2 separate regions of the Homo sapiens genome follow, and region 2 is linked to region 1. Evidence: fine-mapped expression QTL. A gene starts in region 1. The other region holds a variant in brackets. All regions are shown on one strand. Distances are between the middles of the regions.

Region 1 (5,371 bases):
CTACTTTTATCAAGTCTTTGATATGTGATCGGTTCTTATGCATATATAACCCTGTTTGCACACCAGCCATGTGTATTGCCACATACCCCAGGGTAGAGATTATTCCTTCGCGGTTGGCATTTAATAGACCAACCCGTGTGCCACTACCATCAGTGCCATATAATATTAACCTCTTCAGTGAGGTAAAGTCAAGGGCTAGCTGGTATAATACAGTAATGCCGAGGGCAATAATCCAGGACTTATTTAGGGGAAAAATAATCAACAGCAGTGGTGTTATCAATTTCACAACTATTATGGTAAAGAAAAAGTTCCAGTGAACTCCATACTCTGTTAAATGTTCCTGATAGCCTATTGATTTTATAATGGCTAATCGTCCGATTCCTAGGAAGACTAATGGCCAAACAGAGTACAATGAGTTTGTAAAGTAATGCAATTTGGACCCTTCCATATATTTTCTCCTCCTGACCTCTAGACAAACCATTGCAGACCCAAAAACAAAGCCACCTACTCCAAAATCCATTGCTCCTGTCCCATAGAGCTCAGTTTTGGCAAATCTTCTGGGAAAAAGTGGGAAGTCCACAGCCAAAATAGCAATAGCAGTAAACGCACTGGTAATTACACGGAAACAGGAGATGGCTGGATTGTATTCTGATTCTAGACTGATGTTCAAGAATTTTTCAAGGATTTTTAGGAAAGGCAGTCTGGCATAGCAGGTCCTCCTTCGGTATATTTGATACAACAGCCCTGCCCCAAAGATAATTACACCGAGAAGCTCAAGGAGGATAAATGAAGCCCAAATGGTCAAAGTGGCTACCATGGGAACTATTAGGACAACAAAGTCAGTGAGGAATCTAGTTTTCCAGGTAGGTGAAAAAGAACACAAGTACTGTGAGAAAATGATCAGGAACCCTCTGCACAGGATACAGAATGCAGGAAAGCACAATCCCTGGGTGATTTCCAGCACGGTGGTTCCATTGAGGTTACTGACAAAAGCTTCCTTCATCTGCTTTTCAGACATTTTTCTTCCTGTGAAAACAAGAGCAAAGGAATGGATTTGTGAAAAGCAGCATTCTTGTGTAATTAGCATACCTGGCTTAATTTTACTCTTATTACTAGATTTCAGAGCAGAACTTTGGGCCCTAATGAGTTCACCTAGGATTTGTGATTCCCCTTCCAAGGATTGTGGGAAGAAGCTTAACACTAATGTGTTCAGATAGAAATGTCATACTAATAATATTAAATTATTGGTTACAAAGCTTCAGCTATTCCCTGTACAAGACAGACTCACAAAGAAAGTGAATTTGGGGCCAGGCGTGGTGGCTCACACCTGTAATCCTAGCACTTCGGGAGGCCGAGGTGGGAGGATCACCTGAGGTCAGGAGTTCGAGACCAGCCTGGTCAACATGGTGAAAGCCCGTCTCTACTAAAAATACAAAAATTAGCCAGGCGTGATGGCACCCGCCTGTAATCCCAGCTACTTTAGAGGCTGAGGCAGGAGAATCGGTTGAACCGGGGAAGCAGAGGTTGGAGTGAGCCATTGCACTCCAGCCTGGGCCACAGAGTGAGACTCCATCTCAAAAAAAAAAAAAAAAAAAGGAAAAGAAAAAGCAAAGGAAAAGAGAGCGAATTTGGGATATAAACTCTGAGAATGGCATCATAGGCAGATGGGAATTTCTATTATGGAGCACAGTACGTATCATGAAGATTCTTTGATGCAAATTGAATAGGATTTACTAATGACCTTAAAGCAAATTCAAACGCTAGGGGCCAAGTACATTTTGAAGTTGGGGGCCTTGGTTCCAGTTCAGAGCCTCTCCAAACCTACTGCCTTGGTACAAAACGTGACCCCTGCAGTGATTTCTGGATCCCCAGGCTGCTCCTTTCCTCATTTACAGACAGCTATGTTTTCAGGTTAGGATGGAAGTAGGTACGGTGGGTGCATTAAGAATGGATGTATAGCACATACTAGTGTTAGTTGCTCTTTTATTAAGGGTTGTAAAACACCTCTGAATGCCACACATCATTGTCTGAAAAACGGCATACTGGAAGAACACATTTGTTGGTTAAACATGAACCTAGAGTTTCTAAATGTACCATGAGCTGAATAAGTAAGTGAATGCATGCGTGCATTATGGCCTGTCTGGAACCTGTGACAATATCTCACAGTAACCAACTCAAATCAGTTGACCATTAAAAATAAAAGTCCTAGCCGAGAGAAGTGGTTCATGCCTGCAATCCTAGCGCTTTGGGAGGAGAGAGGATCGCTTAAGGCCAGGAGTGAAAAAAAAAAAAAGAAAAATTAAAAATTAGCTGAGCGTGGTGGTGCGCGCCTGTAATGCCAGGCTGAGGCGGGAGGATCGCTTGAGCCCAGAGGTGGAAGGCAGCAGTGAGCCGAGATCGCGCCACTGCACTCCTACCTGGGCGACAGAGCGAGACTCCGTCTCTTAAAAAATAAACATAAAAATAAAAAGTCTTTTTCCTAACAGACGCCCGACCTGGCCGCGCCCTACCCGTATACCTCACGTACTCCAAATGGTGCCGGCGCCCCCAGCAGACGGTCTACGTGGGAAGGGCAGCCGGACTGCCGCTGCACCCGCCAAACCACGCGGGAACCAGCCGCTTCCGCCTCCCGCGCGGCACTTCCGGCCGACGCAGGCAGCTGGCACTTCCGGGCCGGCCGATTCCGCGCGTCTCCGCCCATCATGGCGCTCGTGCCAGTGTCCCGTGGGCTACCCACTCCTGTCATGTCCTTTGGGCTGGTGCAGGCCAGATCTTCTAGGGCCGTAGCCCTGAGAGGAGCGCCTGGAGAGGAAACGGCGCGCCATGCACCTCACACGGCCCCTCAGACCTCACGGCGAGGCCCTATCAGGGTAATGGTGTCCGCCGGCCTCGCACAACACTCCGCCGCACTCGCACAAGACTCCGCCGCGGCGACCTCTACTGAAAGACCCCCAGTCCTGGTGTCGCCCGAAGGCCCAGGAAACCGTGCTTCCGCGCTTCTCCCCCAGAACGTGGGAAGCTGCCGCTTTACCCTCATTTTACCCCAGGGTCGCAAAACATCTCACCGTAGTTGAAGCCAGCAAGCCGGACCAGGCGTCCCGGCCAAGCCACGTGCGCGCCCCGCGCCGCGAGTGCTCGCCCCGCCCCTAGGGAGGAGCCGGCCGACCCCCGGCCACTTAGCAGTGCCGCAGCCGACGGGGTGCGGTTCGGCGCTCCCAGGTTCCTTTCCTCACTGCACGCTCTTGCCCCTCCTCTTTTCTCTCCTGCCCGTGTTCTTCCCGCCGCCTGACCTGGCCCGCCCGCCTTTCCAGTCTGGCCGGGCGGGGGCCTGAAGCACGGCGGCTCGGGCCGTGGGACCGGTGAGTGTCAACCCGAACCTATATCTGAAGCCCTTCAGACGCGGAAGGGGCTTGGGAGGCCAGTTTGCCCCGCAGCGGTGAGGAAGAAGTAGGCGTCTCCACCTCCCCTTCCAAAGCGCCGTTTCCCTCCTTTTTGCCTTTTCCTTTTGACCCTCTTGTGTCTCACGAGGGGGTAGCCCAGCTCTTGGCTCTTGCTTGAAACAAGTCTTTCTTGATCACCCTCCACCTTTCCACCTGGCCGGCAGGGGGCGGCCTGGGGGGAGAGGGTCCTTGCTCCACTCTTCGCCCAGCTGAGGACCCCGGGAGGGGGCGGCTGGTCCCGGGAGGTGTCAGGGCAGCTGCGCCCTTGGCTGGGGTCACGTCCACCTTCCTGGGAAGGACATACTCTCCCCGTGCCAGGTGCTTCCGGAACGGCATCCCAGCCCTGGGTTTGCGGCACGACGCCCGGACCTTGAGTCCCCGGTTCCCGCCGGGAACCTGGGGGCGGAGCCAGCTGGACTGATGAGATCCTTACCCAGCGCTTCTCAGCGTCTGCCCTCCCACTGTCCTCCATGCCTAGAAAGAAACAGTCTGAGAAGGAGGGACTGGTGATCAGGTTGCCACTTGCCTTGATTCGGTGTTCCATTTACTCATTACCGTCTCCTTTCTGCCCACAGTGTTCACACCCTTTCCAGAAATTCTTGGCTGGTAACCGCGAAACCGACTGGAGCAGGAGCTGGGAGAACTGGAGAAAACTGCTCTAATCTCACTTGACTCCAGCTAGGAGCTGATGCTGCATCGTAATAACATTTGCAGAGCGCTTTCACAGGTATTAGCCCCTTTAACGCTTCATTTAGCCCCGTGAGATCTGGATATTATCACTCCGTTTTGTAAACGAGGAAACAGAGTGAGGCTTAGTTCTTGGGTTCTGTGCCAGGGGCCTTGGGTTTTGGATTCAAACCCCAAACCTGTTGTGCTGCCCCTCTGGACCTATTGCTTGAGATGAGTTCCCAGTTGAAAGAGCTTTGTTCTCTGGAGCCCTCTGCATGGCTGTCCCTTGGATGGGGTACAGTCAGTGTCCAGGGTCAGGATCTTTTAGGGCTGTAGCACCACACCTTAAGTGGTCCAGCACGGTCCTGATACCTGTTTCCGCCTCAATTGTCCTTTTTCCAGCTTCTATGGAAGTCCCTATCCCTGGGTTCTTTAAAGACTTGATGTATTCAGAGCCTCAAGAAAGTCTCCACCAGGGTTAATCCATTGCAGGCACGCTTCACCCTCAGCCTCATCTCTCCTTGCTAGGGGTGGTGCCAAGGCCTAGAAAATTCCAAGTCTGAGGGTCACTTAACCATTCTTCAAAGATTGGCTTAGGCCCAGCCTCACAACACCCCACCTCCCAGATGGATTCATCTCCCTGAAATCCTCACCTTCTTGAAGTTGACACTGGACCGTTCACCTGATTAGCGCTCCCAAATGGATCATCAACCCTTAGTCGTAGTGCTAACAGTGTTTATCCTCTGAGTGAATACTCAGATTCGTACTTTGTGTGGTGCTGTCAAACCATGACCTCATTGACCTTCACAACCACTCCTTATGAGGCAGATTTAACTGTCCCCATTTTCAAGGTAAGAAATTGAGGTAGGTGATGTGCCTGACCCAGGATCACACACCCAGTGAGTGATTGAACTGTGATATAAACTACCACACCACACCTTTCCTGGAGCAGCGAGAGATGACTCCAGCCTCTCCTCCTCACCAACGACTGAAATAGGATATTTCTGTCTAATGTAGAGGATAGGGCACAAGGCTTCTCTGTCTCCCCAGTGTCTTACTCCTCCTCCATGGCACACTGACCCAGAGGGTTTGCAGCCCCACCCCAACCCAAACCCTAACCCTGTAATAAAACTGGCCCAGGGAGCCTCTGAGGCTCTCATAAAAGTTTCCCTGTCTCCTAATTGGCAAGGGAAAGGACAGGCCCACTCTCCGCCCAGGCCTGCCTTGCATCTCATTTTGGTTGCTTCTGCTAGGTGGGAAGG
Region 2 (5,371 bases), 65 kb after region 1:
CAGTTTCAGGTGGGCATAATAGAGGGCTTATGTAGGACTAGAACTAAGCCTCTCAACTATACCAAGCTATCCAGGATGGACCAGGGATTCAATGAGCATCCTACTGCCTTCCTGGAGAGGCTAATAGAGTCTTGGTAAAGCACACCTCACTAGCTCCTGATTCCATCAAGGGACAAGTAATCCTAAAGGATAAATTTATTACTCAGGCAGCCCCTGATATCAGGAGAAAGCTGCAGAAACAGGCCCTGGGACCAGATAGTACCTTAGAGAATCTCCTGAAAGTGGCCACCTCAGTCTTTTGTAATAAGATAGGGAGGCCCAGAAGAGAGAGAGAGGAGACACAGGCAAGAGGCAGAGGCTTTAATGGCCACCATGCAAACCCACAAACTCCAGAATCCCCAAGCTACACCTGTTAACTGCTACAGATGTGGTAAGCCAGGGCATTTTAGGAAGGATTGCCCAGGCAACATGAGGAAGCCACCCCAACCCTGTCCAATGTACAATGGGGACCACTAGAAAGTGGACTGTCCCCGGGGGCACTGGTCGCCAGGCCCAGAGCCAATCTCCCAAATGGTCCAGCAAGACTGACAAGTCCTGGGGCTCCTCTCCCTGGCTCCGGTGGTCCAGACCACCATTACCATCCAGGAGCCCCAGAATTTACAATTCTGGATATGGAAGGGAGGAAAGTGGACCTCCTTCTGGACGCTGGGGCTGGTCTCTCGGTTTTCATCTCCAATTCAAGCCCCCTGTCCTCTCTTAGCATGACTGTGAGGGGCATCCCAGGAAGGCCTTAAACCCAATATTTTTTCCAACCCCTTAGTTGTAGTTGGGGAGACCTCTTGTTCACCTGTGCCTTTCTAATTGTGCCTGAAAGGCCAAATACTCTGTTGGGTAGGGGTATTGTGGCCCGTGTAGGAACCACCATCCTGATGGCCCCAGGACAAACTCTTTGTCTCCCCTTAGTGGAGACTGATTTTAACCCAGAAGTTTGGGTAACTCAAGGGAAAATTGGCAGAGCCACAACCACCATACCAGTCTGAACCAGACACAATAGCCCCTGAAACCAGAAGTTAAGAAAAGACCAGAAGCCATCATTGATAACTTAAGGTTGCAGTACCTCCTCAAACTCTGCAACAGCCCTTGTAATACCCCAATATTGGGGGTACAAAAACCCAAAGGGGAATGGAGACTAGTTCAGGACCTTCATCTTGTTAATGAGGCTGTGGTTCCAATTCACCCAGTGGCTCCCAATCTGTATACCTTGCTAGCTCACATACCTGAGGGAACTAAAAGGTTCACAGTCCTGGACCTAAAGATATAATGGTATGCTTCTTCTGCATACTGTTATATAAACCCCCAGTATTTGTTTGCATTTGAGGATCCCTCTAACCAGACCACCCAGTTAATCTGGATAGTGTTACTTCAGGCATTCTGAAACAGCCCCCACTTTTTTGGGCAGGCACGGTCAAGAGACTTCTCCAAGTTCCTTTATCCTCAGGTGAAAGTTTTACAATATGTAGATGACATTCTCCTCTGCACTCTAACTAAAAAAATCTCTCAGGAGGGCAGTAAGGCTCTTCTTAATTTTCTGGCTAACAGAGGATGTAAGGTTTACTAATTAATGAGATAATTCCTCGCTTTGGACTCCCTAAGTACCTCCAGAGTGATAATGGCCCCTTGTTCAATGCGGCTGTCACCCAGGGGATCTCAAAGGCACTAGGCATACAGTACAATGAAGATGGTTCTTCATTGTGCTTGGAGACCACAATTCTTAGGAAAGGTAGAAAAGACAAATGATATTATCAAAAGACACCTCAGGAGACTCACCTCCCCTGGACTACCCTTCTGCCCATATCTCTACTATGTATTAGAAACACCCCTTCAAGGCTAGGTTTGAATCCCTTTGAAATGATGTATGGATGGCCTTTTCTCACCAATGATTTCTTGCTAGACCAAGAAACCTTTGATTTGGTTAAACATATCACTTCTTTGGCCCATTTCCAACAGGAACTGAAACAACTGTCAGAGAGGCACAATCCCATGAACCAGGACCACCTCTATTCAACCCTGGGGACCTAGTACTGGTAAAGGTACTTCCTTCCCTTTGTCCCTCTATAAGCCCAGATTGGGAGGGACCTTACACTGTACTTCTTTCTACTCCTATGGCAGTGAAGGTCACTGGAATAGATTCTTGGATTCATTATACCCTAGTAAGGGCCTAGGAAGCTAATGGAGTTACCTCCATTAACCCAGAAGAGCACTCAAAGTACCAATGTGAAGAGATCAGGGACCTCAAGCTAAGAATCACAAAAGATAAGTGTTAATAATTAACCTTCCATGGATATCTTCCTTAAAAGTCTTGGCTATGCTTGCTGTTCTTACCTTTGCTCTGTTCTATACCACAGGATATAATGTTGTTTTCAGAATAATTTGTATATTTTACTTCTTATTTCTGTAAACTTTGCCACTAGATTCTTTCCTTTTAACCCCTTTTTGTATAATACACATATTTGATTCATGCATACTTAACCTTGTAGAACTTGTTTCTTCTCACCTAGAGACCATCAAACTCCAAATGGTCAAGGCAAGCAGAGCCCTGGATGATGGCTCCCTTTTGCTGGGGACCCTTAGGTAGACCTCTGGGAAGAATCTGACTGCTCTTCTCCCCAAAACAATGCCCCCTCTCTGCAGGAAGCAGCTTAGATCGGTCATTGTCTGTATCCTAACAGCAGTTAGATGTGCATCTTCAGAGGGGGGAAATGATAGCTACAGGAGGCCGAGAAATTCTAGGCAGACACGGGGTTGGCGGGGGGGTCCCCGGTGAAGCCCCCCCGACTCAAGCCAAAAAGCCTGAGACCCAAAGTGAGAACTTCTATCGATGTTTTCCTGCTCAAATGTTGCCTTTTCCTAAACTACACATGGCCCTGCTCCACCCCATCCTGTCCCTATAAAGACCCCAGACTCAGCCATCAGAAAGAAGGAGCTGGACATCAGGCACTCTGGCTGAATGTCAGAGAGAAATGGCTTGACTTCAGAGGGACGGTCTGACAGCGTAACTTTGGAGAAGAATCAGCTGGAGATGGCCGGACTTCAGGGGAGGATCACTTACACCCC[C/T]CTGACCCCTTTTCAGCTCCCATTCCCACTGAGAGCCACTGAGGGCCACTTTAATCAGCCGTAAAATCCCCGCATTTACCATCCTTCAATTCATTCATGCAACTTCATTTTTCCTGGATGCTGGACTAGAGCCTGGGAGCTACGAGTGCAGATACAAAAGGCTGTCACACTGGCCCTTTGCCCTCGCTGGTGGAAGGCAGCCGCCTCATGTGAAAAGGCAGAGGGTCCACTGAGCTGTTAATGCTTAAGCCATCCATGGACAGAAGAGCTAAAAGAACACCGTAACACGCCCTCTGGGGCTTCAGGGGCCACAGGAACCCTCCTGCCTAGATGCTGCTGTGGAGCCCACACAGAGTTTGCTCCTGCCGGCGCCCAAAAGCACTCTCCCCAGATCCTGCACCCACTCACCTGTGTGCTCCCTCCTGCAAGGGGTGGTCCAAGTGAGTGAAGATCGCTCCTGCCAGCACCGAAGTGGCCAGCTGGTTCCAGCACTTGTGCACTCCAGTTCCTGCCTCATTCACTCATGCATTCCCTCCCACGGGATGTTGAGAGCTGCCGGCTGAGTAAATGAGGCACTCCTGTTGCAAATCCCGCGAAGCGGTCAGGGAAATACCCTGCTTCGCTAGAACCATCTGTCCACATTTGGGGTTCGCTCTCCTCTCTATTCTCCTCATCCTCCCTACTTCCTAGTGTGTAACACAGCCTTAGAGTTAGACCTGGGTTCACAGTCTGTCTCTGACACTTTCTAGCTGTGGAGCTTCGACCAGTTTCTTTATTCCCTGAAGCCTTTGTTTCCTCATCAGTAAGTGGAAATAATACCACTGTCACAGGCTTTTTTGCAAGAATTAAACGAGACACTATGAATAAGTGCCTGGCTGTTAGTAAGTTTTCAGTTATTGGTAGCTGTCCTCACCAACTCCCTGGTTAGACCCCTTTCCTTCACTTCTCACATCTGATTGCTTCCCAAGTTTTTTCAAGCCTGTCTTTCTTCAATCTGACCCTTCTCTGTTCTCAGAGACCCTTTCTAGGTCCTCAACCTATTGTATTTTGCTCATTCTCCTTGGATTTTTTTTGCCTTTGGTCTTATCCACTCCAATCTCTCTCTTTTTTTTTTTAATTTGTTTTGTTTTGTTTTGTATTTAGAGACAGAGCCTTGCTCTGTTGCCCAGGGTGGGGTGCAGTGGCATGAACGTAGTTCATTGCAGCCTGGAACTCCTGGGTCAAGCAATGCTCCTGCCTTTGCCTGCCAGGTAACTGGGACTACAGGTGTGTGACACCCATCTGGCTACTTAAAAATTTTTTTTGTACAGATGGGGTCTTGCTTTGCTGCCGAGGCTGGACTTGAATTCCTGGGCTCAAACGATCCTCCTGCCTCAGCTTCTCAAAGTGCTGGAATTACAAAAGCGTGAGCCCCCACACCTGGCCCCAATCTTTGTTTTTGCAGCAGTAGTTTTCAATCTTTTTAAAATTAATATCTCTAGATAAATCTTTAAACAGAAGAAAGCACTCTTCTGTAATCAGGGATAGGATATGGAGTCCCAAACACCTCCCTGGATCCCTCATTCACTGCAGCCCTGCGAAGCTCCACCAGGATCCCTTAGGGCATTGAGAAAGTCATTTTTGCCACCCTATTGCTGCCAGCGGTGATGTTTCTGAACATGTGGATCTGACAAGTTCACTCCTCTGGTGAATTTCTCCAGGGTTCACTAGCACCTCACGTAGAGGTTCCTAACCTGGGTATTGCCCTCTCTAGTCAACCTCCAACTTCACATGATGTTGTAGATATATATTTTTTAAACATGGCTCTGATTGTGTCACCCATGGCTCAGCATGGCGGTAAAGGCCCTTCACAGTGTGGCTCCAGCCTCTCTTTCTGCAAGGCACCTCTACTTCACCCATGCCAGGCCTGGCACTGCTTCCCCACTGCCTTTTTTCTTTGCCCTTGCACCTCTTTTTGCTGCATGCTAAGTCACCGCTTGTGTCCTCCTGCCTGAATTCCTCTTTTTCCCAGGAGACTCAGGCTAGGGTGGGGAGAGTCTTGCTAAAGCCCTAAGCAAGGAAGATTGATTTCCAGGAGTGTAGACAGGCTAACATGGGCAATTCAGGCCTTCACCTTTATCTGTGTAGATAATGTTTCAGACACACGGAATAGTCCAGGTGTCAAATTCCTTGTGGAAAGAAAACTTGACATTGATCTACTGTCAAATGGTTGCTTTGGTTTTTCGAATAGTTAAGATAGACATAATCAAAGATCACA

What was found.
Region 2: its variant is fine-mapped to the expression of MYO19 in blood mononuclear cells (TOPMed, PIP above 0.99).

Annotation. Positions count from the first base shown.
Region 1 is chr17:36,532,749-36,538,119 of GRCh38, reverse strand. MYO19 (myosin XIX) reads left to right here and starts at 3,252. Exons shown (of 26, transcript NM_001163735.2): 1 at 3,252-3,359; 2 at 4,016-4,167. PIGW (phosphatidylinositol glycan anchor biosynthesis class W) reads right to left here and starts at 3,133. Exons shown (of 2, transcript NM_001346754.2): 1 at 2,528-3,133; 2 at 1-1,026. The coding sequence starts at 1,018. RefSeq lists an enhancer at 3,886-4,561.
Region 2 is chr17:36,467,358-36,472,728 of GRCh38, reverse strand. No RefSeq gene overlaps it. Among named protein-coding and RNA genes, the nearest start is that of ZNHIT3, 17 kb to the left of the region's middle. The variant C/T (reference allele first, on the strand shown) is at 3,115.